Regions from separate parts of the Homo sapiens genome. Here all the other regions are linked to region 4. The links come from fine-mapping of genetic effects on gene expression. A gene starts in region 4. Each other region holds a variant in brackets. All regions are shown on one strand. Distances are between the middles of the regions. Region 1 has its middle 6.2 kb from the start of MAFA. Region 2 holds the start of LOC124902037 (a long non-coding RNA gene). Region 3 overlaps ZFP41 (ZFP41 zinc finger protein). Region 4 holds the start of TOP1MT (DNA topoisomerase I mitochondrial).

Evidence for each region. PIP is the estimated chance that this variant, and not a neighbour inherited with it, causes the effect.
Region 1: its variant is the best candidate, but not a certain one, in a credible set for the expression of TOP1MT in whole blood (INTERVAL, PIP 0.82).
Region 2: its variant is the best candidate, but not a certain one, in a credible set for the expression of TOP1MT in whole blood (TOPMed, PIP 0.88).
Region 3: its variant is the best candidate, but not a certain one, in a credible set for the expression of TOP1MT in subcutaneous fat (GTEx, PIP 0.51).

Annotation. Positions count from the first base shown.
Region 1 is chr8:143,421,223-143,427,812 of GRCh38, reverse strand. No RefSeq gene overlaps it. Among named protein-coding and RNA genes, the nearest start is that of MAFA, 6.2 kb to the left of the region's middle. RefSeq lists enhancers at 1,236-1,325, 4,733-5,320. The variant G/A (reference allele first, on the strand shown) is at 3,027.
Region 2 is chr8:143,298,519-143,305,578 of GRCh38, reverse strand. ZNF696 (zinc finger protein 696) reads right to left here. Exons shown (of 3, transcript NM_030895.3): 3 at 5,627-7,060. LOC124902037 (a long non-coding RNA gene) reads left to right here and starts at 2,500. Exons shown (of 3, transcript XR_007061139.1): 1 at 2,500-2,829; 2 at 3,425-3,569; 3 at 3,746-4,194. The variant A/G (reference allele first, on the strand shown) is at 5,109.
Region 3 is chr8:143,257,828-143,265,455 of GRCh38, reverse strand. It overlaps ZFP41 (ZFP41 zinc finger protein), which reads right to left. Exons shown (of 3, transcript NM_173832.6): 3 at 2,751-5,681. Among named protein-coding and RNA genes, the nearest start is that of GLI4, 5.8 kb to the left of the region's middle. The variant T/C (reference allele first, on the strand shown) is at 3,239.
Region 4 is chr8:143,331,672-143,336,732 of GRCh38, reverse strand. It overlaps TOP1MT (DNA topoisomerase I mitochondrial), which reads left to right and starts at 1,853. Exons shown (of 14, transcript NM_052963.3): 1 at 1,853-1,993. The coding sequence starts at 1,872. RefSeq lists a silencer at 1,696-2,155 and enhancers at 2,356-2,405, 1,945-2,629, 4,305-4,838.

The DNA of each region.
Region 1 (6,590 bases), 90 kb before region 4:
GCAGGCTGGGGGTGCAGGGCAGGAGGTGTCCTTGGTGGGACACACCGCTGCATCCTGGTGGCCAGAACTGTCCCCAGCCCTCGGAGTCTGCCCGTCTCCCACCTGAAGGCGCAGCCTACCCTTGCTCCTCTGAACGGCTGGCTGGGCATGGACTGGGAGCACAGGGGAGGAGGCAGTACCCCAGAAATCTCAGTTCACAGGGCCCAGGGCGGCTGCAGGACACGTCGTTGATGGTTCCCTCCCTTCACTGCCGGAAGAGAGGCAGGCGAGGGTCCGTGGTTTGCAAATTTGGAGAGAGGGCTTCTGGCCTGCAAGGGCTTCCAAACTCGCCTTTCTTGGGAGGGGGCTGTGCTGCTTTTCCATCGGGGGTAAGCGGAGGTTCTTTCTGGGGACGGGACGGAATCCTCTGTGAGTGAGTCTCCTGAGTTTGTTTTATCGTTTCAAGCGGAGAGACCTGGAGGAAGAGAGGAAGGCGAGTCCTCCGTCAGTCCCTGCCGCCTCCCCCTTTGCTTTTGGGTCTCTGCGGGAGTTCAAGCAGAATCCCAGCAGGGGAGCTGGCCGTGAAGGCATCTCTGTGGAGGAGAATGCTGGTGGGAATTACAGAAATGTGGGGCGGAAGATGGAGTTGAAAAGACTACGCCGGCAGGGACAGGCGGGTTCCAGGCAGCCACGGGTGGCTCAGCCGCCCGGCCCGGGCCTTCGCTTACACAGGCCATCTCTCCCCAAGGAGGGGCGGGGAGCCTTGGGCACATTCTTGGACGGGAATCTGCTGGCTCGTTTTTCATAGTCCGAAGTTGTAAAGAGCAGAGGACATGGGACACCTTAGTTTTCACCATCGCCGCCCCCAGGAGCCCTTTGCACAGAGCCTTTCCCTGGCCGAGAAAGTACAGGACCCAGCGACTTCTGGCAGCCTGGATCAGAGGCGGCCTTTTTGGGGTGGGAGCGGCGGGCAGGGAGCTGTGTCACCCTCCCTGCTCCCTACCCCCACCCCAGGCGTCTGGGAGCCCTGCACTCAGGGGCCAGAACTGGGCTTCCTGGTGCACGGGGCCTGCGGGCGCTGCTGGAGGCTTGCTGGGTTTGGGACTCAGAGGAACCCCACTGCGGCACGTGCCGGGGCTGCCACCGGATCCAGCTTTCTCCGCAGCATGGCCGGGCCCGAGCTGTGGGACCTTAGCAGCTGCTGCTGCTGGAGTCAGTTCACTTTCCTGTTTTCTGTTTTCTCTCCCCTTTCTCTTTCTCTCTTTCGTCTGTCCCCCTGCTTTCCGCCACACACAAGGTGGAGCAGGCAGGTGAGCACCGGGACGCGGGGACCCCTGCGGGCAGGGGACTTCTTATTCCTGTGTTCCGAGACAGAGCTTTATTGAAAACCATTTTGGGGGCTCCGTGAGCCCCCGCGGGAAGATGGCCATGTGTGGAAAGCACCTTTGGCTTCAGTTGCACCCGTGCCCACCCACACAGCACAGGCCTGGACCAGCGGCACACACCTGACCCAGACTCTGTACAGCTGGCAGGGCTGGCTGGAGGCCTCAGTTTGCCCCGAGGGAGTCCCTGGGACCAGTGTGACCCTTCAGGAGGGGCTGCTGCAGCCAGACCTGGCTGGAGCCGGCAGCGGGGGAGGGTGGGCAGCTCTGGGGTTCCTGGCTGAGGGAGGTTGTGTGGCCAGCAAGGAATCGGAGAATTAGATCCCTCAGCTCCTCCTCACTGGGCCTGGAGCCCTGGAGGGCAGCAGAGCTGGAGTGCCAACGGCAGTCGTGAGCATGTGTGTCCCTTGTGTGCAAGGCAGCACCAAGGTGCTTGGGGCTGAGGGGAGCTGGAGGGCCCCTGGAAGGGGCGACCACAGCATCCGCCGCTCAGCTCCTGGGACCCTAGCCCCTGACCCATCCTGGAAGAGCAGCTGACCTCACCCCCACCCCCACCTGGATGTCCCCAGAGGTCAGTGATGGTGCCTGGCCTGGGTGCCCCCTGCCCCCGCCACCGTCACCCAGAACCAGAGCAGGCAGGCAGGGACTCCTGGCACTTCGAAGGTGCCATCCTCTGCCTTCCTGGAGGAGGCTGCCTGGGCCCAGAGGGCAGAGCTTGTCTCCCACACACGCTGGCAACCACCCTACCCACCCTACTGCCCACTGGGGGCCCACAGCAGGGACCCAGGTGACAGCCCTGGCCCAAGAGCTCCGGAGGGAGACACCAACTGGAGTGTCCTGCATGTGACACTCGGCCCCCGCGTGAGCCCTGGGAGAGGGGAGGCTGGGGCCTGAGGCTGCCTTGAACAGGGTGCAGCGTGAGGACCTAGTGTTCCTGGGGCAGCTCAGATATGTGGCCCCAGGAGTTGTGTCCCATCTCCCACCAATGGGAGCTGTGTCTTCCCAGACAGCAGGGAGAGGCTGAAGGGGCCGGGGTTAAGGCCCTGGGCCTGGGTGGACACCCATGGCACACACTGGACACACGAGCAGGAGCACTGGCTGCACTCCCCCCACACTCGCCTGTGCCCGACAGCCCACCTGGACCCCACGCACACACACGTCTGTGCCCGCAGCCCACCTGGACCCCACGCACACACACGTCTGTGCCCGACAGCCCACCTGGACCCCCCCACGCGCACACTCGCCCGTGCCCGACAGCCCATCTGTACCCCCCACACACACGCTCGCCTGGGCCCGACAGCCCACCTGGATGGTCACTGGTCTCCTGCCTTAAGCCCCCGTCAGCCACGCACAGGGCTTGGGCTGGGGGTGCTCACAGGAGAAGGCCAGGGCCTTCCCTCCTTCCTCTGCCATTCCCAGGCGCTGGGCCAAGTGTGGCCCTGTTTCCTCCCCCCACTGCCCCCCAGTACGTCACAGTGGTGGCTGTCGGCAGGGCCCCCCCAGCCTCCTATAGAGCCGGCTCTGAGATGAGGGCCAGGACAAAGCGGAAGTGTCCTCTGCCCCAGCCCCAGCACAAGGGTGGGTACGCTGTGGCACGTGCACACATGCACGGGCACACACACATACACACAGCCCAGAATGTGGGAGCAGACTCTACCCACCCGG[G/A]GACACAACAGCAGACACACTTGTGGCCCTGCGTACACACACGCGTGCACCTGGCTGGCACACATGAGGGTGGAGTTACACCCAGACACATGCATGTGGACCCACCGGCCCTATACGCAAACCAACCCCATGGTTTTGTCTGGGCCGGTCCTCCATGCTGAGTCCCGCCTGGCCACAGTGGGCTCTGACATGGGCCTCTCCAGTGAAGTGCGGTCCTCAGCCACTGTCTGCTCGGTTCAGCCCAGCCCACCCTGTCCGGGAGGAGGGGTCCTGGCCCTGCCCTGCCCTGGCTGCCTTGGCCTCTCCTTGCCACCTCTCTCCCAGCCCTGGTCCTTGGAGCCACCGTGAGGGGCCCAGATGCCCTCCAGGATGGAAGCCTCATCCTCCACTGCCAGGTGCTGAAGGCTCCCTAGGGTCACGCCCTCTTCCAGGGATGGATGTGGGGTGCAAGACCCAGCCACCCTCTGGTTGGAACCATCACTAACCAGCCCAGCCAATCGTGGGGGGCTGAAGGCTCCAATTGCTCAGCAGGGACTTGGCTCAGCCCTGGAGGGCCCTGAAGGGGCCTGTCCGACAGATAGGCCTGTGCAGGTCACAGCGTCACCAAGGGTCCTGGCCCAGGGCCAGTGCTGTGACCTGCCACTGGGTATGGTTGGGAGCCTGGGGACCCAACACCCCTACCTTGGGCCTGGAGGAAGGGCAAAGCCATCCCTGGCCCAGGGCCTGGGGACGTGGAACAGGGCGGGTGTCAGGAAGAGCCTGGCCTTCTCCCCAGGGGGCCTTGGTCTCCCCACCTGCCAGCCACTCTGGAAAGCAGATACTCCGGGGCTCTGAGTCAGACACAGAGGTGATGGGCTGACATTTGCAGGACAGGAAAGGGCCACCAGCCCTGTGGGGTCCATGCTTTCCCTTGCCCAGCCCCGACTCCTCCCCGCTGCCCTCATGGCTGAAGCAGCCATACCTCTGCCGTCCCTGGGCCTGGGTGCCTGCTCAGCAGTTCCTGGCCACGGAGTCCAGCCGAGGGCTGGGGAGGCCCAGCAAGGGTGCGGGGCAGGGCCTGAGTGCCCCCGCTGTCCCAGATTCAAGCCCAGCCTGGCCCCACCCTCACAGGGGCCCACCTCCCTAAGGCTGAGGGTCCTGGCAGGTTGTCGGGGGCAGCAAAGGCTGAGACCAGGGCGAGGGCCCAGATGGTCCCGGAGAGCGTGGATGGGACGGACCTGGGGGAGACCTTTCCTGATAGGAGCTGGGAGGCGCGTGGAAAGTCGGGGCGTGAGGTGGATGCAGGTTCTGTGTTCGACCTTGATGGTGTAATCCCTGAGGGTGCACGGGGAGGGGCAGCACGGGGTGGACTTTGGGGGTGCAGCATGTGGGTCAGCAGGGAGAGCCCGAGGCTGTGGGCTGAGCCGGGGAGGGTGGAGGCCTGCGGGGTCTTGGCTGAGCCTGGCTCCTAGGGGGTCTCGAGGTGGGGGCAGGCAGCTCAGACAGGAGTACCCTCCAGGGTCCCTGAGAGGAGGCATTTGGATCCCCGGGCTCCCAGGGAGAGGGTGGCGGCCGAGGGACCCTGAATTAGGGAGTCTGGGGTGGCAGGGGAGACTGGCGGGGCAGGGCCAGCCAGGGCCCGGGAAGTGGGACCGGTGCTCAGAGGACTCGGAAGTTGTGGGGGAGGAGGCAGGGCCTGGGAGAGGGTCTGAGGCGGGAGGCTGGCCCAGGAGGAGGGGAAACCGCTTCCTCACCTGGGAGGCGGAGGAGGTGGGGGATGGGGGAAGGGAGTGTACCCCGAATCAGGAGGTGGCAGGAAGGTGGGAGTGGCTTGGAGCCCACACCCTCGACCCCCACACACAGTCGGCAGTCCGCATGGGGAGCAGTGACAGAGGAATTTGCGGCTGGCGGGCTCAGCGCCTGCCTAATTTGCAGTGACACCGCTCAGCTGCCCAGGGCTCCAGCTGTCACAGCCAATTAGCCCGCGGCCGGGGAGGAGCGCCGGGCAGGGGGGCGGGGGGGCATGAAGGGGTCGGCGGGGGAGGCTGTGGGGGTTGCAGGAGGGGTAGGCGCAGGAGGAGGCCTGTGGCCTTCAGGTCCGGCCCGCCCCCCCAGGCACCCCAACCTGGCTGTGGAGAGCAGCAAGGTGGGGTGCCCCCCAACAGCAGCCCACCAGGCCTGAAGCCCCTCAGCCGCAGCCCTTGCTGCCCCTTTCAACCCTGGCATTCCCCTGAGCCTTGCCACCTCTTCCATGCCGGCCTCTGGGACTCCAGTGCCCTTGACCCCTGGCACCCGAGTTAGGTGTCCTGAGGGCAGCTGGGATCAGTTCCAGCCTGGAGGATAATTCCTCTCCACATTCAGGCCACCGCCTTCCCAGACAGAGCCACCTTGGCCCCTGACTTGCGTCTGTGGCCCAGCCCCTCCCTCCCATGTGGCGGGCTCCGCCCTGGGGCCTCCCCGACTCCACTGCACCTCCCGGCACCCACTCAGCGTGGTCTAGCTCGCAGGGGATGGCCCCTTTGCCTCCCTCCCACCCAGTCCTCAGAGGCTGACACAGGGAGGTATCTGGAACATGCCAGGCGCCAGCCCCATGGGCCTTGATCGCCTCCCCGGAGCAGCCTGGGAGCAGCAGTGAGCGTGCAGGCAGGGTGCTGGGCACAGAAGAGTCCCAGGCTGCTGGCGGGGCCCCGCGGGACTCTAGGGGACTCTGGCTTCTCTAGGAAGGAGGGTCCCGGAGTCCCTTCTCCTGCAGCACCCTTGCTCCCGTCTCCTGGCTGGGACCCAGGTGTCTGGTCACCTCCCCCAGAGGGGTGGGTCTCAGGGACAAGCCATGTCCTCCGGGAAGCCACATGCCCTGGGTGGCCCCTCTCCAGCCGCCGCCTCTGCCCAGCTCTTGGTACAGATGCCCCAGGGGAGCTGATGCCCTGGGGGAGGGGCGTAGCCCACGGCTCCTCTGCGACAAGGGAGTTTCAAACACAGGGGCCCTGGCTGGGCCCACCCCACCCATCCCCAGCTTCTCCCTGCAGCCTCTGGTCTCCTCTCTTCAACCCCAAGGCTGCCCCTCCGCACAGAAGCCGCCCATGGCTGTCCCGGCCCTCCAGCCCACCCTCCTGAGGGATCTGCCCGCCTCCCACCCCCGGCCTCAGCACTCCTGGTGTGCTCCTCCTCACGGGAAGCCCTCTGCCGACCCCACAGCCCCCTTCGTCCCGGAGCACGGAGCACGGAGCACGGCTCGCCTGTCTCAGAAGCGTTAGGCCCCGCAGGCGCCTGGCCCGGCCTCGGCTCCAGCTCCACCCTCTCTACTGGGGCCCTGCCGTTGCCCCTGCTCCCCCGGCCGGGCGGGGGTCTCCTGCCCATTTGCTGCAGTGCTGGGGAGGGGCTGTGCTTTGCCGAGCGGGGCACTGGCGGTGCAGCAGAGGCGTCAAGAGGCGGCACCTGTAGACACGCAGTCGCGGTGTGTGAGACGCGCGGGCTGGGGCGCGGCAGGACGCAGGGCAGCGGTGCTGGGACCATTACCCCAGCGTGGTGGCGCGGGCGCCGCAATCCCGGGCGGCACGAGGCTCAGGTATGGGAAGAGAGACGGGA
Region 2 (7,060 bases), 32 kb after region 4:
CGGGTGGAGACTCACACTGGATCCCACTCAGCCATGATCACAAGAACAGAGCGACTGCTGCTCGGGTCTCACGGGCGACTGACAGCAACCGGGAGCCCTGACGCCTTCCCGACACCCCCTGTTCCATCCACGAACAGGCACGCCCGCCGTTGTTTGAGTTTTTACATGTTGACACCCCCTGCTCCATCCACGAACAGGCACCCACCGTTGTTTGAGTTTTTACATGTTGACACCCCCTGTTCCATCCATGAATGGGCAGACCCGCCATCGTTTGAGTTTTTACATGTTTGTGAGTAATGTTCCATCTCAACAGCCTGGGCAACATAATGAGACCCTGTCTCTCCCAAAACAAGCAAACAAAAACCCCCAAAATTAGCTGGGCATGGTGGTGCGCGCCTGTAGTCTCAAGCTACCCGTGGGGCTGAGGTTGGAGGATGAGCCCGGGAGGTTGAGGCTGCAGTGAGCTGTGATTGTACCACGGCCCTCCAGCATGGGTGACCCTGGCTTAGGAAAATTTGTAATAATAACATCCCATCTCTCAGTTTACATGTAGAAATCTTACACATCTTTCCTAAATATCATGTAAGTCAGTCCCAGGTGTGTTATGTCCTCTGAGTCTATTCTAAATGGTTTATTTTGGATTTTTTTTTCCTTTTCTGTCAGATGCTTTAGGTACTGATTTTCTCCTCTCCGCCTGGCTGGAACATCCGTCTGCATCGGACGGGCTTCCTTCTGCACCTGTGACCTCACAAGGGCTCTCCTTGGGGAGGCAGGACCAGAGCAGCCCTGAGTAACCGGGCACAGCCGAGGAACAGGCCCCAGGGAGGCCAGGACCCGGGTCCTCACGCCTGCGGCCACAGAAGCACCGTGTCCCTGCAGCTGTGAGCCACCAGGCGTCTGGGTGGGTGGTTACTCAGCAAGTGCCAGTAGAGAAACTGGGTCCCAGAGTTGGGGTTGCTGTGGACTGGATACTTGTCCCTCACCTCCAGTTCACATGTTAAAGTCCTCACCCCCAGCAAGACAGTGTTGGAGGTGGGGCCTTTGGGAGGGGAGCAGGTTTAGAGAAGATCCTGGGGGACCCTCACGATGAGATGAGTGCCCTCATGGGAAGAGACACCGGAGCCTCCTCTCCAGGAGCACACACGGGACGGTCACATGAGCAAGAGGCTGCTGTCCGTAAGCTGGGGGTGGTCCCTCAACAGGAACTGGGTCTGTGGCACCTGGAGGCTGGACTCCCAGCCTGCAGAGCTGGGAGAAAGAAATGTCTGCTGTGAAGCCAGTCGGTCTGTGGAATTTTGACACAGCAACCTCGTCTAAGACAGGTGCCGGCAGAGCCACCTCGTCTAAGACAGGTGTTGGCAGAGCCACCTCGTCTAAGACAGCTGTTGGCAGAAGCAACACCTAAGACGCAGTGCACTGACTGCGAGTGCAGTCTGGGGCTGGAGAACAGAAACACGGGGAGGAGACTATTAGCAGAAGAAACCATGATTAGGTAGTAGTGAAAAATTTGGGTGAAAAAAATTGCCTTTGGGCGGGTGCTGTGGCCTGTGCCTCTAATCCCAGCACTTTGGGAGGCCAAGGTGGGTGGATCACCTGAGGTCAAGAGTTCAAGACCAGCCTGGCCAACATGGCAAAACCCTGTCTCTACTAAAACTACAAAAATTAGCCGGGCGTGGTGGCGGGCACCTGTAATCCCAGCTGCTCAGGAGGCTGAGACAGGAGAATCAATTGAACCCGGGAGGCAGAGGCTGCAGTAAGCCGAGATCGCACCACTGCACTCCAGCCTGAGAAACAGAACCAGGCTCTGTCTCAAAAAAAAAAAAAAAAAAAAAATTGCCTTCAGTAACTTGGAAATTAGAAAATGGACCCAGCTAAGCAGAGCTCCAGACAGAGTGGCAAAAATGTCAGCGGAACGCTCCTCGTGGCACTGGTGAGGCCTGCGAGCATGAAATGTGTGAAAGGAGGGATCGTCTAGTCTGCAGGCGGAATCTGGAGGACACAGAGCCGGGGCCTGAACTGGCTTGGGAAACAAAACCATCTCACATCTTGTCTCTGCAGTCAGCAAAGCATTTTCTTTCAAAAGTTGTTTTAAATTTACTTTTATTTTTTAGAGACAAGATCTCCCTATATTGCTCAAGGGATCCTCCTGCCTCAGCATCCTGATCAGTTGGGACTGTAGGGTGTATCACCACTGCCTGCAAAGAATTCAAGTAGTAAGTGGCCTCAGGATAAAGATAAAATCAAGGTTGTGGCCATATCCATTGTTAAGGCCCCAGAAAAGTTTACCATGTTGGGGCTGGGTGTGGTGGCTCACACCTGTAATCCCCGCCCTTTGGGAGGCCGAGGTGGGAGGCCAGGAGTTCAAGGCTGCTGTGAACTGATTGCACCACTGCACTCTAGCCTGAGTAACAGAGCAAGAGCCTGTCTCTAAAAAAAAAAAAAAAAAAAAAAAAAAAAAAAAAAAAATATATATATATATATATATATATATATATATATATATATATATATGCTGGAAGATAGTATATAGTACAAATCCTCTCAGCTAGACAAAAGTGTTTCTAAGACCCTAAAGGATGTTTTCCCACAACATGCTAACACATCATATGAAACAGAGAAAACACTGACAAATGTTTAAGTATATTTTTTGTCTAGTGGAGAATATAATCTAAGAAACCCACAAGATTTTGTTTGTTTGTTTTTTTGAGATGGAGTCTCGCTCTTCTGCCAGGCTAGAGGGCAGTGGCGCGATCTCGGCTCACTGCAACCTCTGCCTCCTGGGTTCAAGTGATTCTCCTGCCTCAGCCTCCTGAGTAGCGGGGACTACAGGTGCGTACCACCACACCCAGCTAAATTTTGTCATTTTTATCAGGGACGGGGTTTCACCATGTTGGCCAGGATGGTCTCAATCTCTTGACCTCGTGAGCCACCCACCTTGGCCTCACAGAGTGCTGGGATACAGGCGTGAGCCACCGCGCCCGGCCCGAAACCCACCAGATTTTTAAGGGCATTGTGTCAGTTTAAATGAACAGAGATGGAAACAGCTGAAAATGAAGCCTTTGGGTTCCCTCCTTCTACAGGCAGTAAGCAGCTAAGAAAGCTGCTTAGCCTCAAATACAGGCTATCGGACATCTAAAAACACAGAGGAGAGAGACCAAGGGCAGAGCCAAAATCTGAGGGAAAAAAAAAGGATAATAATGTCACTTCCAGGGAAAATGAGGCCCTAAAAAAGACACAGACTCTGCCCCCTTAATGAGGTCCCTTGGCAACATGCTGTTGACTGAGTCAACAGAGTACTACAGACTGGGGTCTGCAGTGAATGAGCCCCCACCGCTCTCTTTTTCAAACGAGAGAGTTATTGTGCTTATCCTGGGCCTGTCTCAAAATCCTGTGCTGGGGTCGAGGCAGGTAATTTTTTCTTTAGTTTATAGCCTCAAGAGGCATCTCACACACATCCGGACCAGAGGAGAATCATGAGCTGACGGCCTCTGAGCTGAGACAGCAGCAGGAAGAGACCTCTGGGTGGCTTGAGTGGGGGGTGGCGAGCATATTTCACTTGTGGAAGGAAAGTAAGTCACTGTGGCTCCAGAGTGGACTGTGGGAAATATCGGACGGTCCCAGGACACGCGGCTCTCTCTGCCCAGCCCTGGGGCTCCGTTGTCACGTGGGGATGCCCCTCACCACTTTTTTTCTATGAAACCCCATTTACAAGATTCCACTTCTTCCTTTTTTTTTTTTTTTTAAGACGGAGTCTTGCTTTGTCACCAGGCTGGAGTGCAGTGGTGTGATCTTGGCTCACCGCAACCTCCGCCTCCCGGGTTCCAGCGATTCTCCTGCCTCAGCCTCCTGAGTAGTGGGGACTACAGACACGCGCCATCACACCCAGCTAATTTTTGTATTTTTTAGTAGAGGCGGGGTTTCACCATATTGGACAGGCTGGTCTCGAACTCCTGACCTCATGATCCACCTGCCTCAGCCTCCCAAAGTGCTGGGATTACAGCACAGTGGCCAGCCCCTTCTTCCTCTTTCTTGGTTTGCTCCCTTGATTTGGAGCTCCTCCTTTAGTAGGCTCCTGAAAACATGTATTTTGAAAATGAATTTTTAAAAGTAAGAGTTTGCATATCTGAAAATGTTGTCATACTGTCACACTTGACTGACCACTTGGGTAGGTATAAAGTTCTAGGTTGGAAATTATTTTCACTTGTAATTTTCGAAGCATTGTTCTGTCATTTTCTAACTTCCAGTCTGCCCTTGGGAAGGGATTTATTCCTCAGCCTGTGTGTGTGATCTGCGCTTTCAGATCGTCTCTATGTCCTGGACTGTCTGATGTTTCACGTCATGCCTGGATGTAGGTCGTTCCTTCCATCTTTGTGCGAGATATCGGTAGGTGCTTTTACTCTGGAGATTCATGTTTCTCGGTTCTGGGGGAAAATTATTTCTCTAATAACTTCATTCCCACCATTTTCTGTTTTTGTTTTCCCCTCCTTGGAATTCCTGTTAGTCTTAATCTTTCTATCCTGTCACCCACCTTCTTGTCTTTTCATTCTTTCAAACAGATTTTCTCCACTTTCCACCTTCTTGCTAATTTAATTTTGCCCATTACATTTCCATCTCTAAGACATTTTTATTATTTTTTTATTTTTTTCGAGGTGGAGTCTCACTGAGCCTGAGTGACACCCAGGCTGGGAGTCAGCGGTGTGATCTTGGCTCAGTGCAGCCTCCGCCTCTCAGGTTGAGTAACGCCCAGGCTGGAGTTGGCGGTGCGATCTTGGCTCACTGCAACCTCTGCCTCCCAGGTTGAGTGAAGTCCAGGCTGGAGTACGGTGGCGCAATCTCGGCTCACTGCAGCATCTGCCTGCCAGGTTCAAGCGATTCTCGTGCCTCAACCTCCCAAGTAGCTGGGATTACAGGCGCAGACCACCACACTTGGCTAATTTTTGTATTATTAATAGAGATGGAGTTTTGTCATGTTGGCCAGGCTGGTCTCGAACTCCTGACTTCAAGTGATCCGCCCGTCTCTGCCTCCCGAAGTGTTGGGATTACAGGGGTGAGCGACCATGCCTGGCCCATCATTATTTTTGAGTTTCCTTTTTAAAACAATGTTCTGG[A/G]CTTCATATGGCACCTGAGCTTGCCTTTCTTCCCCTGGTTGACTCACGCCTCCCTCCTGTCTGTCTTCATGTGTGTGACTCTGGGTCACAGATTTTCCTCCTAATCTTTATGTGTGTTTGTGTGTATGACAGTCTCACTCTGTCACACAGGCTGGAGAGCAGTGGCGCAATCTTGGCTCACTGCAACCTCCGCCTCCCAGGTTCAAACCATTCTCCTGTCTCAGCCTCCCGAGTAGCTGAGATTACAGGCATGCACCACCACAACTGGCTGATTTTTGTATTTTTAGTAGAGACGGGGTTTCACCATGTTGGCCAGGCTGGTCTCAAACCCCTGACCTCAGGTGATCCACCCACCACGGCCTCCCAAAGTGCTGGGATTACAGGCATGAGCCACTGCACCCAGTCCTAACCTTTACCTGTCAACCGGCAATTCTATACAGCTTACTGTCGTTAGGGACATATTTAGTTTTGTTTCCACCATCTTAATTTGCCCAGTTTGTTTCTGATTTTTTTTTCTTTTTTGAGAGAGGGTCTCACTCTTTTGCCCAGGCTGGAGTGTAGTGGTATGACTACAGCTCACTGCAGTCTCGAGCTCCCAGGCTCAGGTGATCCTCCCACCTCAGCCTCCTGGGTGGCTGGAACTATAGGCTTACTTACTGTATTTTTTGTAGAGACAGGTTCTCCCTATGTTGCCCAGGCTGGTTTCGAACTCCTGGGCTTAAGCGATCCACCCACCTTGGCCTCCAAAGTGCTGGGATTACAGGTGTGAGCCACAGCGCTCAGGCCCAGCCTGATTTCGTTCTTATTTTTTAATTGACAGAAGTTTGTGTTCAGTTCATTTATTTATTTTATGGGCTCTCACTGTGTTGTCCAGTCTGGAGTGCAGCGGCACAATCGTAGCTCACTGCTGCCTCAAACTCCTGGTCTGAGGATCCAAGCCGAGATCCTCCTGCCTCAGTCTCCCAAGCAGCTGGGACTACATTTTAAATCACAGTGTTTTATTCTTTTTATTGGATTAGAGATGTATAGACTGGTTACACTCTTTTAGTAATTAACATTAAATTACACTATGCACATTTAACTTATCAAAGTCAAATTAAACACTATCTTACACCCTCTTCCCAACAACCGGAGGGTCTTAGAACATTTCTGTCCCTTCTAATTTACATGCTATTGTTGTCTAGTATTTTAGTTGACACTATTCTTTTATATATACATATGTATTCATATTTATAATTTTATTTGCTTGCCATTCCATCTTATATCTAAGACCATCACTCGGCTCATTTTCCTTTATTTATTTATTTTTTTAAGATGGAGTTTTGCTCTTTTTGCCCAGGCTGGAGTGCAATGGCGTGATCTCGGCTCACTGCATCTTCTGCCTCCCAGGTTCAAGGGATTCTCCTGCCTCAGCTGCCCGAGTAGCTGGGATTACAGGTGTGGGCCACCATGCCCAGCTAATTTTGTATTTTTAGTAGAAATGGGGTTTTGCCATGTTGGCCAGGGTGGTCTCAAACTCCTGACCTCAGGTGATCCACTGCCTCAGCCTCCCAAAGTGCTGGAATTACAGGCGTGAGCCACCGTGCCCAGCCCTATGTTGCCTAGGCTGGTCTTGAACTCCTAGGCTCAAGTGATCCTCCCCCTTAGGCCTCCCAAAGTGTTGGGATTATAGGCATGAACCACTGCACCTGGCCTGTTTTTCATTTCCAAAAGTTCTTTAAGGAGTCCTGCCTATTCATGCGTGACAGTATGTACCCTACAGCTTTCTCATCACTGACTGCGCGACTTCTTTGAACACCTCACACATAACTATCCTCTCACCTGTATGATGACAGTTTCAGGATCTGCGTTTCTTTGTGGCTGACAGCGGCTGCCTGCTGTTTCTGTTGGCCCTCAGTCAGCTGACTCTCCTTGTGTGCTTGGGGATCTTTGCAAGCTGAATGCCTGACTTA
Region 3 (7,628 bases), 73 kb after region 4:
GCTGGGATCACAGGCATGCGCCACCATGCCCGGATAATTTTGTATTTTTAGTAGAGACGGGGTTTTGCCATGTTGGCCAGGCTGGTCTTGAACTCCTGACCTCAGGTGATCCACCCGCCTCAGCTTCCCAAAGTGCTGGGATTACAGGCGTGAGCCACTGCGCCCAGCTCCTCTTTTTTCTTTTCTTTTTTTTTTTTTTGAGACGGAGTCTCGCTCTGTGGCCCAGGCTGGAGTGCAGTGGCGCGATCTTGGCTCACTGCAAGCTCCGCCTCCCGGATTCATGCTATTCTCCTGCCTCACCGTCCTGAGTAGCTGGGACTACAGGCGCTCACCAACTTACCCAGTCTCAGGTATTCCTTTATAGCAGTGCAAAATGGACAAACACAGAACTACATCAGGAGAGCGGCGGACGACAATGCAATTGACTCGATGACAGGCTGCAGCTGCATTGCACCAGGCTGTGCAGACTCATTTTTGGGGGCAGCTGTGTCTTTGTATGTAGTTCTTGACGTCCTGTCACACGCACAGGCTGTTCTGTCACACACACAGGCTGTTGTCACCAGCTCCCTGTGCATCCAGCGCATCACGGGAAGCTGAGTCACCCAAGCTACCGTCCATGTCGGCTGACCCATGAGAAGCTGTGGAGCGTCTCACTCCCCAGGCCCTTTGGACAAATCCTCAGCCTGGCCAGCTCACAGGAGTGAAGGGAGATGGGAACGGGTGTAATCAGAGTGGAAGAATCCCCTTCCCCCACCAGGGAGGTGTGAAGGTGACGGGCAGGGCTTTGGAGGGAGTGCAAAGGTTGCTGATTTAATGAGCTCGGAGCCAGCAGCCAGTCTGGTCTGTTGGAGCAGCAGGTCCCCGCTCCTCACCTCGAGCAGGGTTTTGTTGGGTATTCACTGTAAATAATGAGCTAGTGTTTGTTATGCTGGGAGGAGGGGTTCCAGCCCAAACAGCCCCAGAGCCCCTGGTCCTAAGACGTGGGAGTCGGCCCACAGCCAGCCCCCCCAGCCTGTTGTCTTGATTTGTCCTCTTGGACTGTGGATTAGAAAAGGCCTCCATGGGCTTCTTTTGTTGAGATCGGGGAATCCAGTGCCTGTTCAGATACCCACACAGGCATGGCCTGCTCCAGCCAGTGCTGCTGGGGTTGGGGTGAGGGTGCCATCTGGACGGGCAGTGCCCTTGTCTCTAGGGGTCCCTGTGGGAACCTTCAAAGCTTCCCTGGCAGGAGGGCTGGTCAGAGACCCCGAGCCACTGGAGTAGAGAGGCTGAGAGCACTTCCTAGACCACACCTGGAGATGAGGGGCTTAGAGGAGTGGCCAGGCTTAAGGTCCAAGAAGGCTTCTCTAAGGGGCAGCATCAGAGAGAGATAGGGGTTGGAGCAGGAAGGAGGGAGGGGAGGCAGCAGAAGGGAAGGGCCAGCCCATCACAGAGAGGCAGGAGGGGCGCAGGGGCAGAGGTCTGATGCCTGAAGGAGTTGCCTGGGGTTCGAGTTTGGAAGACCAGGCAGGGGAGTGTGGTGAGCAAGGGGAGGACAGAACGGGATGGGGACAGACCGAACAGCCTTGACACCTCCACTGGGGGCTCAGACGTCATTCTCAGGGCACTGCGGGGCACAGGGGTCTGCAGGGAGGGAGGGAGGAGAGCTGACATGCACTGAAGATCTGCCTGGGGCTGTGGGGTAGAGAAGAGCAGGACAGAAGGGAGAGGGGGTCAGTGGCTGCAGTCCCCTGCACGTGACACAGCTGGCAGAAGTCCGCCTAAGTCCCAGGCCGGGATGCGGATGATGAGGAAGCTTTAGGCCTGGGCTGGTGGGGCAAAGACGGGGCCACTCTGGGTGTTGTCCTCAAGAGTGGAGAAAGGCAGTCAAGCACACTTGCCTCTCGCCAGCGCCAGCCACCGTGTCGCCTTGCTGGCTTGGTTGCAGGGGAGGGAGAGCTGGGAGGGTTCTGGTTAAGTGTGTGAAGGCATGACCAGTCTCCATCCCCACATCTCCAGCCACCGCAGAGGCTTGTTCCCGCACCGCTCCATGCCTTTCCAGCTTCTGGAACCCCAGGCGTCTCTGGGCGGTTCCCTGGGGCCTTGAGAGCCACCTTTCCCGTCCTTTTCTTTGTCGTCACAGGGTCTAAATCTGTATCTCTCACCTGCAGCACCTCTGGCATCTGGGCAGGACCCCCGCCTCTGCACACCAGATTCCGGTGGTGCCCCCGCCCAGCTGTGACCGCCAACACGGTCCCGGACATTGCCGAGTGGGCCCCAGGGGCAGAAGTACCCCTGGTTGAGAGCAACTGCCCTGACGAAGGAGGTGCGAGCCGGGGAACAGAGGACCAGACAAAAGTGAGTGCTGTTTGGAACTCAGAGGGCCTGGAGAAGGGCTGAAGACAGGGCCTGAAGAAGGCGTTCAGGAACCCCGGGGCCTCCTCTGGGGCATCCTGAGTGCAGGCACTAGGCCACCTAATGAACCCTTAGCTTCCCAGGTATCCGGGGCCAGAAAGGCTGAGAGCATTTCCGCACTGCAAAGGGTTGCTCCCATTGTGAGTTAGTGAACAACTTTCTCATTTATGTGTCAGTCTCCTGTGAGTCTGGCTAATGGGGAGTGGTCTTGTGGAGACCCATCACAGGCAGCGACCAGCCAGGGTCCTGTGGTCCTGGGAAGCAGCACCTGCACTGTTCCCTGGGAGGAAGCCGGTAGCCTTCGTGGGGTCGCTGACTGCATCCCCAGAGTGCAGAGAGCTCAATGAAGACAGCACTCGAGTCAGAAATCAATGTTTACTGCAGAGAACACAGAAGCCAGCAAGCAGTAGGCAAGGGAGGCGTCGCAGTGAGTGTGTCGGGCAGGCTGGGAACCAGCGCAACGGCCCACGTGGACCGAGGACTCACGCAGAGCAAGTCACAGAAAGCGCAGCTGAAAACAAACGGATGCTTATCCCAGATGCACAGGACACTTACCAAGGACTGATGGTCTATCAGAGTAATGCTCAGCAGCTTTGGCTGGCAGGACAGTTAAACTTTTGGACAACAGAAAGTAACTGGGAAATGGGACATCTGCCACCAACACGAGAGGCCAAGACCACAGCTGTTACAGGAGGGGTCAGCGCCACAGTACATGGGTGGCGGCGGCGGCTGCACATGCATGCCTGGGGAATGTGAGTGTTCAGACATGCCAGGCATCCAGCCTCACCAGGAAACAGGCACACGGGGACACAGGCACAAACACTAAAAACCCTCGCTGAATCCA[T/C]TTGGCTGAGCGGTGGCCACGGGAGCACGGGGCTGCCCTCCTCACAGACCTGCACCTGGGCCCCAGGGCAAGACGGGCGTGGGAGGTGCAGGGGTGCGGGTGTGGGCAGGGGCTGCCGGAGAGGGGCGTGGGAGGTGCAGAGGTGCGGGCGCGGGCAGGGGCTGCCGGAGACAGCCGTGAGGGGTGCGGGTGCAGGCAGGGGCTGCCGGAGACGGGCGTGGCAGGTGCAGGGGTGCGGGTGCGGGCAGGGGCTGCCGGAGACGGGCGTGGCAGGTGCTGCCGGAGACGGGCGTGGCAGGTGCTGCCGGAGACGGGCGTGGCAGGTGCTGCCGGAGACGGGCGTGGCAGGTGCAGGGGTGCGGGTGCGGGCAGGGGCTGCCGGAGACAGGCGTGGCAGGTGCAGGGGTGCGGGTGGGGGCAGGGGCTGCTGGAGACGGGCGTGGAAGGTGCACGGGTGCGGGTAGGGGCTGCCGGCTCAGAGGCGTGTCCAGGAACCCCCGTCAGGCCAGAGCCCTGCCCTGAGCGGCCTGCAGGGGTGACTGCGAGACAGCAGCGTTAGGCCCGGTCTCGGCTGTGAAGTCGCCCCCACCGCCACGCACGACCCTGGGGATTCTGTCAAGGTGGGGGCCGTCTGCTAGGCCCGGGCTCCCTGACCACGTGGCTAGGTTTGCGGAGGAAGCCAGGAGAGTGCCAACACCAGGCTCTGTAAGCGTGAGGCTCCCTGCCGGCCCCATCCCGGAGTTCACCCCATCCTTCCTGCGTCCCTGGACCTCAGCTGTTCCTCATTGACCTCAGAGACACCCTGCCCTGCCCCGGCTTCTCAGGAGCCCTGCCCACCACCGCCTCAGCTCTGGGGACACGGCCTTTCTCCCGGTGCAGAGGCGCAGCTCGCTGCCCCCAGGGCCCATCTTCCTCCCCAGCATGTTTTTACCTCAGCTCATTCTCAGGAAAGAAACGATCACATCTCAGCGCCCCAAATGGGGACCAATAGGAGAGGTCACTGGGAATGAAACCCAGGTACACCCCAGGGTCCGTGGGCTCCCCAGAAACGCAGGTGGACCCCACCACAGCCAACAGGCCTAAGTCGCTGATCGGCCCCTCCCTGCTTCCCTGTGTCGAAGAGGAAACAGAGGCCCAGACAAGGAGGGCTGGTCGGCTGCGTCCCCAGACCTCTGGTTCCGGGGCTGGCTGGGAGCACCCCTCTCCCTGCTCCCTTCCTGCTCTCCTGAGAAATGGCTCAGGGATGGGACCTGCAGGGATGGATGCTGGCATAGCTCTCAAAATGCTCGCACAAGGGACACTCCATGGCAGGTCCCTGCAGCAGAGCAAAGTCACAACATTTGAGGTTCTCTGCACTCTGAGGCCTACAGAGCTCGGCTGGCCGAGTGAGGCTGGGAGGATGGTGCCCGCTGGTCAGGGCAGCTGAGTGGGGCTGGGAGGATGGTGCCCGCTGGTCAGGGCAGCCCTCTGGGTCAGGGTGACTGAGCAAGGCTGGAAGGATGGTGCCTGCTGGTCAGGGTGGCCGCGTGAGGCTGGGAGGGTGGTGCCCGCTGGTCCGGGTGGCCAAGAGAGGCTGGAAGGATGGTGTCTGCTGGTCAGGGCGGCCCAGGAGGTGCTGTCCAGGCGGAGCCCGGGGCTGGTGTGGGTGCGCCATGCTCCTGAGAAGTTTCTGGGTTGTGGCTTTAATGTTCTCCTGCAATAAGAACGCTGACACTTGGCTGAAAGGTCCTCACGTCTCCCCCAGTACACTTCTGAGATGCCAGGAAGGCATTCTGAACATCAGGCTGATTCCTGGGACTCCCCTCCAGGGTGACCTCACCGGAGTCAGGAGCCCCCGCCCCGCGCCCACTGCCCCACTAGGATGGCTCTGCAGTGGCCTGAGGACAGTGAACACTGGGGTGTAAAGTTGCCCACTGTGATGGTTTTGACCTTTGAAGAAATTTGGGAACCAAGTGAAAGCCCGGCAGCTATTTCTAGGCATTTCAGAGGGTGCTTCCCTGCACGATTTCAGAGGGTGCTTCCCTGCACGATTTCAGAAGGTGCTTCCCTGCACGACTTCACAGGGTGCTTCCCTGCACGATTTCAGAGGGTGCTTCCCTGCACGATTTCAGAGGGTGCTTCCCTGCACGACTTCACAGGGTGCTTCCCTGCACGATTTCACAGGGTGCTTCCCTGCACGATTTCACAGGGTGCTTCCCTGCACGATTTCAGAGGCTGCTTCCCTGCACGCACTCTGCCGCACACCGCACTCCCTGGGCCAGGAGCCTGCTGCACAGAAGGAGGTTCCTTTTCTTCTCTTTCCAGCGCTTTTCTTCTCCTTTTCTTCATCTCTGCTCCTCCTCTAACTGAGGAATGTGCGAATCTTTTTTGTTAGTTTTGAGGCTGCTTCTTATGCATATTTCATCTGGAACTTCTTGCTTTGGGGGTGATCTGCTCTACCAGCCTGAAAAGGATGAGAAATATCTTCTGAATACATGAGAAGTGCGGTGATTACCCGGTTCCTCTGTTGGTAAAGACCACACTCTGAAAGCAAGAAGATGGCTTAAATTTGGGTTGAGTGGAAACAGGCACCTGTGGGCAACGGAGGCCAGGGTTGGGGGCGGGGGGGCCTCAAGATCAGTGGGGGGCGTGGAAGTGGGCGTTAACCCGTGCACCCCAGGGCTGGATGGCACCAGGTTCATGAGGAAGTGCTCCCTGTTTTCTAAAAACGTTAAGGAAGGTGGGAGGGTGTCAGATGTGTAAGCTGAGTGTACATGACATGATCCTTTAACCGCGCTAGAGCAAATGCTCACTCACCCTCCATCCGGTTTAAGCGCGAGATACCACCCAGGGGCCCGTGCCCTGTGCCGGCCCGTCTCTCCTGAGTGTGAACCATGCCTTTGCCTTTCTCTGCAGTTGGACCACATGTGTCCCCAACCACCACACTGTGTAGTTTTGCTTGGTTTCGAACTTTGCGGTGGTTAAAATCACGCCGTGTGTCTTCTGTGCCTTACATTCTCTGCTCAGTGTGTGTCTGTCACGTAGGGGTTGACGTGGGTCCTGGCTAGCTGCGTGGCCACTGTGCCAACAGCTTCCCTTGACCAACAGACCATGATTTACCCGCTTCGCTACCGACAGGCATTTGGGTTCTTTCCGGCTTTCCTGACAGTGCATGCCATGAACGTTGTTGTGTCTCTGGCTGCGTGCACACACGTTTCTCAAGGGGAAGTCAACAGGCGGCTCCTGGGTCAGCAGGAACGCACATCTTCGCCTTTGCCAGAAAACGCCAGGCTGCTCTCCAGACTGTGCTGCTGCCTGGTGCCGCAGCAGGAGATGAGGACCCCCGCCCGTCCCATGCAAGGATCCGAATCCGACCTGGCCATCTTTACCACGCTGTGGGGCACAGAATTGGATCTGTTGTTTTAACTTGTGTTCTCTGATTTTTAAAGAGATTGAGCATGTTTTCAGGTATTTACGAGCCATGGATGTTTTTTTCTTCTGCGACTTTTGCCCATTTTTCTTTTTTCTAGAGATGGGGTCTCGCTGCGTTGTTCAGGCTGGTCTTGAACTCCTGTTTTGGCCATTTTTCTATTTAGATATTTGTCTTTAAAAATCCTGGTTCCTATGAATGCTGCACATATTCTGAACATTTGTCATTTGTTGCTACAGTGGTCAGGGTAAGTAACGGTGGCTGGGATAACGAAGAACCTCCGCATGTCAGCGTCTGGCTCAGGAGGCCTCCCCTTCTTGCTCACACCATGACAGGGTCTTGAGGCTCTCCCGAGGGTGACTCCAGGACATGGCTCCTTCTCTTGGTGTGTGGCTCTGCCATCTCTGAGTCCTTCTCTCTCAGTCACAGGAAGGGAGGACAGCAGATGATTACAGGGAAGATTTCAGGAGGCCAGGCCTGGAAGAGGCGTCCATCACTCCTGCTCACGTCTGCAGAACAGAATGCAGTGATACAATCCCAGTTCACTGAAGTGTCAACCTCCTGGGCTCAACTGATCCTCCTACCTTAGCCTCCCGAGTATATGGGACCACAGGCGCACGCCACCATACCTAATTTTTAATTTTTATTAGAAATGAAATCTCACTCTGTTGCCCAGGCTGGTCTCAAACTCCTGAGCTCAATCGATCCTCCCACCTCAGTCTCCCAATGTGCTGGGATGACAGGAATGAGCCACCGTGCCTGGCCTGCAAGTGCTTAGTACCTTTGTTCATGTATATGTGTATGAGTGACACTGAACTGTAATTTTGATATCCAGATTACACTCACTTCAGAAAATAACACAGGGTGTGTTTCTTGTCTGTCTCCGAGTCTGGGTAAAACTGGAGCTGTTTCTTGAACTCACGTGCAAAGCACCTGGACTTGGTGTTCTTTGGCAAGACTGAGAATCATCCACACAATCTC
Region 4 (5,061 bases):
TGGATTACAGGCATGAGCTACGGTGCTCGGCCAATTTTTGTGGATTCTTTGGGATTTTCTATATACAAGATTATGCCACCTGCAAATAGACATAATTTACTTCTTTCTTTCTGATCTGGGTGTCTTATTTCATCTGCTTGCCTGTTTGCTCAGTTAGAGCCTCTGGTACCATGTTGAGAGGCAGTGGTGAGAGTGGACATCCTCGTCTTATTCTTCATTTCAGCAGGAGCGTCCAGTCTTTCTTCTGGCATATGAGGTTAGCTGCGGGGTTTTGTAGATGCTGCTTTTCAGGTTAAGTTTCTTTCTATTCTGTTCTTGAGTGGGTTTTCCATTCTGTTTATCATGAAATGGTGCTGGATTTGTCTGCTGCTTTTTCTGCATCTATTGAGAAATCTTAGGGTTTTTGTCCTGCCACACTCCCTCTTACAAAACCTGAGGAACCAACTGGGCATCGGCTCACACCTGAAATCCCAGCACTTTGGGAGGCCAAGGTACTTGAGCCCAGGAGTTCGAGACCAGCCGGGGCAACATAGGGAGACCCCATCTCTACAAAAAGTAAAAAACAAAAAATCAAAAACCCTTAGAAACCTGAACTGGAAAACACATTGACCTCAGGATTCCGTTGAAGGAATGGTGGGCCTGGGCCAAGGCCCTCTTCTGGTTTGTAGAAAGGGTTACCTGAAAAAATATGCATCACTGTTCCGCAGCCCCTGGGAGGAGGTGGCCCACCTGGAGAGTCAGCTGCTGTGTCCTGGTGTGTGTGTACCTTCAGCTGCTGAGCTGCTCATTCTGAAATGATGGGACACCTACCAGGTCTGCCTGGGCCCTAAGAGCGAGCAATTGCAGCCCTCGGCCTCTGCCCATGGCTTCCAGCAGCTAGATGACATGGACACTGAGTCAGTTGGTGGCAGGGGAGGGTCGCTGAGGGCGTGCGGTGGCAGCCCGGACTCCTTTCCTGCCTGTGTCCACTGCATTCCCCCCAACGGTCACAGTGAAAGTGCGGAATGCATGTGAATTCATCTGCTTCCCACGGTCCTGGTGTCAGGGTTTTACCGGGGAAGACCAAGGCTGCGGTGCTGCCAGAGGTGAGCGGTGTGGCCTGTTGTGGCTCAGGGCCTACCGCCAAGTGCTGATCTAGAGGTTTTGCCCCTTGGCCATGCTCCCCAGTGAAGACACTGGGGTTAAACCCTGGTCAGGGTCAGCAGTCACGCTGGGGACTGAGCGCAGGAAGGAGGCTCCAGCTGTGCCTGGTCTCTGGTCTCCTTGGGAGTGAGAGGCTGGTTGGCAGGGATGATTTCGCAGGACTTCCTGTGACCTTTGTCCAGAGGCACCACCTCTGAGGGGCTGCTGTGGGCTGGACAGCAGGTGCTTCTGCCGGTTTCTGCGTCCTGGAAGTGCTGCTGTTTGTAGGGGATGAGGTAGGGGGCCATCTGAGCCTGTGTGGTCCCTTCTCCAGAGCAGCAGAGCGTGTACTTAGGAAGGACCTGCTAGGTGCCCCTGCCCTCAGAGGCTCTGGGAGAGAGCTGTGTGCAAGCCCTGGGCAGGAGTTCACTGGCCTGGTCGTGTGACCTGTGGGGCATCCTGACAGCCAGCCCTGTGCTGCAGAGGTCAGTGGGACTGGGTTTGGATCTGGGTCCCCGCCCAGCGTGAAGGGGCGCTGGACCACGAAGGCAGGGAAACCAGGGGGAGGCCGGCAGGACAGTCAGTGGTCCTGCTGCCGCAGCCCCGTGCAGGCTTAGACCGCCCAGCCTTGGGATGAGCGCCGCTGGGGGCGGAGGCCGCGCTCGGGGGCGGGGCTGGCCGCTGGGGGCGGGGCGGGGCTGGCCGCTGGGGCGGGGCCCAGCTTGTCGCTCTTTCCCGGAGGCTGGCAGATGCGCGTGGTGCGGCTGCTGCGGCTCCGGGCGGCTCTGACGCTGCTCGGGGAGGTCCCCCGCCGCCCGGCCTCCCGGGGTGTCCCGGGCTCGCGCAGGACGCAGAAGGGCAGTGGAGCCAGGTAAGGTGTCCCAGTGAGCAGGCGGCGAGGGCCCTGAGCACCGGGCTTGGGTAGGTCCAGAAAGGGGAGTGGCAGGCCTCGTGGGACGGCCTTGCCCTGCTTCCGGTTTTCCCAAAAGTCGGGCCAGGAGAGCATGCGTGCCGCGGTGTGACCGGCCCGCCTCCTGCCCGGGGTGTACAGGCCCCCCCATGACGTCGCCCTTGCTTCCCCAGGCACCACCCCACCAACCCTATTTGGGGAAATCTCCCCTCTTTTTTTCCGCTTGTGGTTTCATCATTTGTGTAGCTGTGCCTGGGCCTCAACACTGTAGGGTTTGGTTAGGTACTTTATAAAAAGCTTATGTTGCTGTGCATGGTCTTCTGAGACCCGCTCTTTCCTGGAGTCGGTTCCCGGGTTGTCTCCAGGACCGATTCTGCATGGCGGCGGGCGCTCACTGTCATATCTACATCACCAGGCACAAGCCGCATGGATCCAGTGGCCCTGGTGGCCGTTGGTGGTCCCAGGCGCTTTCCTGGAGGACATGTGAGAAGCCCTGCCGGCGCATACTGGGCCTGGGGTAGCCGCATGGGGATGGGTCTCTGCGCATGAAATGCTGGAGTTTCCGAAGAGCTGGAGAGTTGACAGCCTCACTGGTGCGTGGGAGATCCTGCAGGAGTTCCCGCCAGGTCTCGCGGTTTATCATCATTCACTTAGTGCTTCCAGCGTGGCATGTCTCTGTGACCTGGTGGTGCGCTATCAGCATACCCATTCACAGCTGAGGGCCTGCACAGCTGCCTAAGGCCATGCTGCAGAAATGTCCTGTCTGCCTGCAGGAGCTTGGGACCCAAAGAGAGCCCCAGATGGGGCAGGGTGTCTTGGGAGGAGGGAGTTCTGGCCTGCGCTTGGAGCTGGGGCTGGCTGTGGGCCCTGCATTGAGGCACATCTCTCCGAGGGTGCACAGGCAGGTAGGTGCTTTCCAAAAAGTGCTGCTGAGCTGCAGTCGCCCAGGTGGACAGGTGGGTTTGGAGCAAGGTCTCTGGCTTTGAAAGCCAGCTTGTGTCTGATGGTGGTGCTTGGTGCCCTGGTCTCTGCAGGGGTGAAAGAATGTCACTACAATGTGCAGCCCTCAGTTGGGCTTGAGCGCACACCCAGTGGTGCAGCCCTGCCTGGCCGCTGGCCGGCAGGTTGTTTCACCTCAGTGTCTTCATCTGTGAAATGAGACTGGTGATGTGACTACCCTAGAGGCTTTGTGAAGGACTTGGCAGTCAGGGTCACTGTCAGTTCTTTATTTTTATTTTTATTATTATTATTTGAGACAAAATCTTGCCCTGTCACCCAGGCTGGAGTGCAGTGGTGCAATTTCAACTCACTGCAACCTCTGCCTCCTGGGTTCAAGTGATTCTCCTGCTTCAGCCTCCTTGAGTAGCTGGGATTACAGGCACCCGCCACCACGCCTAGCTAATTTTTGTATTTTTAGTAGAGACGGGGGTTTTGCCATGTTGGCCAGGCGGGTCTCGAACTCCTGGCCTCAAGTGATCCGCCCGCCTCGGCCTCCCAAAGTGCTGGTATTACAGGCGTGAGTCACCGCGCCTGGCTCCTATCAGTTAGTTCCGAGATACACGTGGTTTCCCATTTTCTCACACCCGACATGATCCATCTTCCCTTATTCTCTAAGAAGGCGTTGTCTAGGTTTGCATCCTTCAGGGCACTTAGTGGTGCAGCCTCCTACCAGCCCCACCCTAGACATGCTGTATCAGGGCTGGTGGGCTCTCTTGAACTCCTAAAACCTGTAAGAAAGGTGAGGCTGGTCTCACCTGACGTGGAAAAGCTCTGCAGAGTCAGCAGAACCCCCCTCTCCCCGAGTCTCCCTCCAGACTCCAGCTGCCTGCAGCATCTGCCAGCTAGTTTTTTTGTACTTTCGCCATGTTGGCCAGGCTGGCCTTGAGCTCCTGAGCCTGCCTCAGCCTCCCAAAGTGCTGGGATCACAGGCGTGAGCCACCACGCCCGGCTCCACCCTGGAAGGTTCTTGAGCCCGTTAACTTCTCCCTACTTTATCAGCTCCGTCTCTACGTCTTCTAACCTTGCCCATTCCCTCCTCTGCAGAAACAGCCAGAAAGGCCCTTTCAGAAATGTCTGTTGCACATGCTTTCCCCTCTCAGACCCTTCAGAGACTTCCTGTTGCTCTGAGGACACTCATCCCAGCCGACCAGGCCCACCAGGCCCCCAACAGCACTACCTGGCTGGGGTCACGTGCAGGTCTCCTGGCTCTGGCAGGTGGGGGTGTGATCTGGAACCTTCTGTCCTTGTGCGTCTGGGGGAGGCTCAGAAGGTGTGCCCATCTCACTCTCCCCCATCCTGATGGTGCTCCCACCCTCTCGCCAAAGCCTCTCCCACTGAGGCCTTTGCACTGGCCATCCTGGGTGCTGGACTTGCTCTTCCCGCAGCCCTGCTGACCGAGCCTGCCCACTGCCTGCCAGCCACGCCCCATCTCGCTCCTCTTCTCCCAGGCCCATCTCAGAATCTAGGTTCAGTTGAGCCCTTCGTATGGGTTTTGGTGATCTGCATCCGCAGGACCCAGCGCAGTGCTGGTTCAGGGCAGGCTTGGGCTTGCCTCAATGGATAGATGATGACTGGCCTGGAGAGTTAGGATGGGCTGTAGCCGCCACGCTGGCTGTGTCCCCCCACCCCCTCCAACACCCCCCCAATCTCCAGAGCTGGGCTTGCCAGAAGGGGGCGCCCTGGGGAGGGGGACCTTGGCAGGGAGCCCTGTGGAGCCTCACTGTGTTAGTGCCTTACAAAAGGAGCCCTTCCCTGAAAACCCCTGAGGCTTCTGGCTTCAGGGCCTCCCCTCCCTGCCCCGCCTCCTCCACCCCGCCCTGCCTCTTCCACCCTTCCACCCTGCCCGATCCTCTGTGGGCGGCGGTCCTGCGCCCTGCTGTGGTGCCTCTCCACTGGCTGCACTGCTGGACCCCCTTCCACCCAGCTCCTCGGAGGCAGGGCTCTCTCATAAGCAGCCAGGTCCTTTATTTAGCAAATGAAATGGTCCCATGGAGAGGTTCCCGAAGATTCTAGACCGGCTCTGAAGGGAC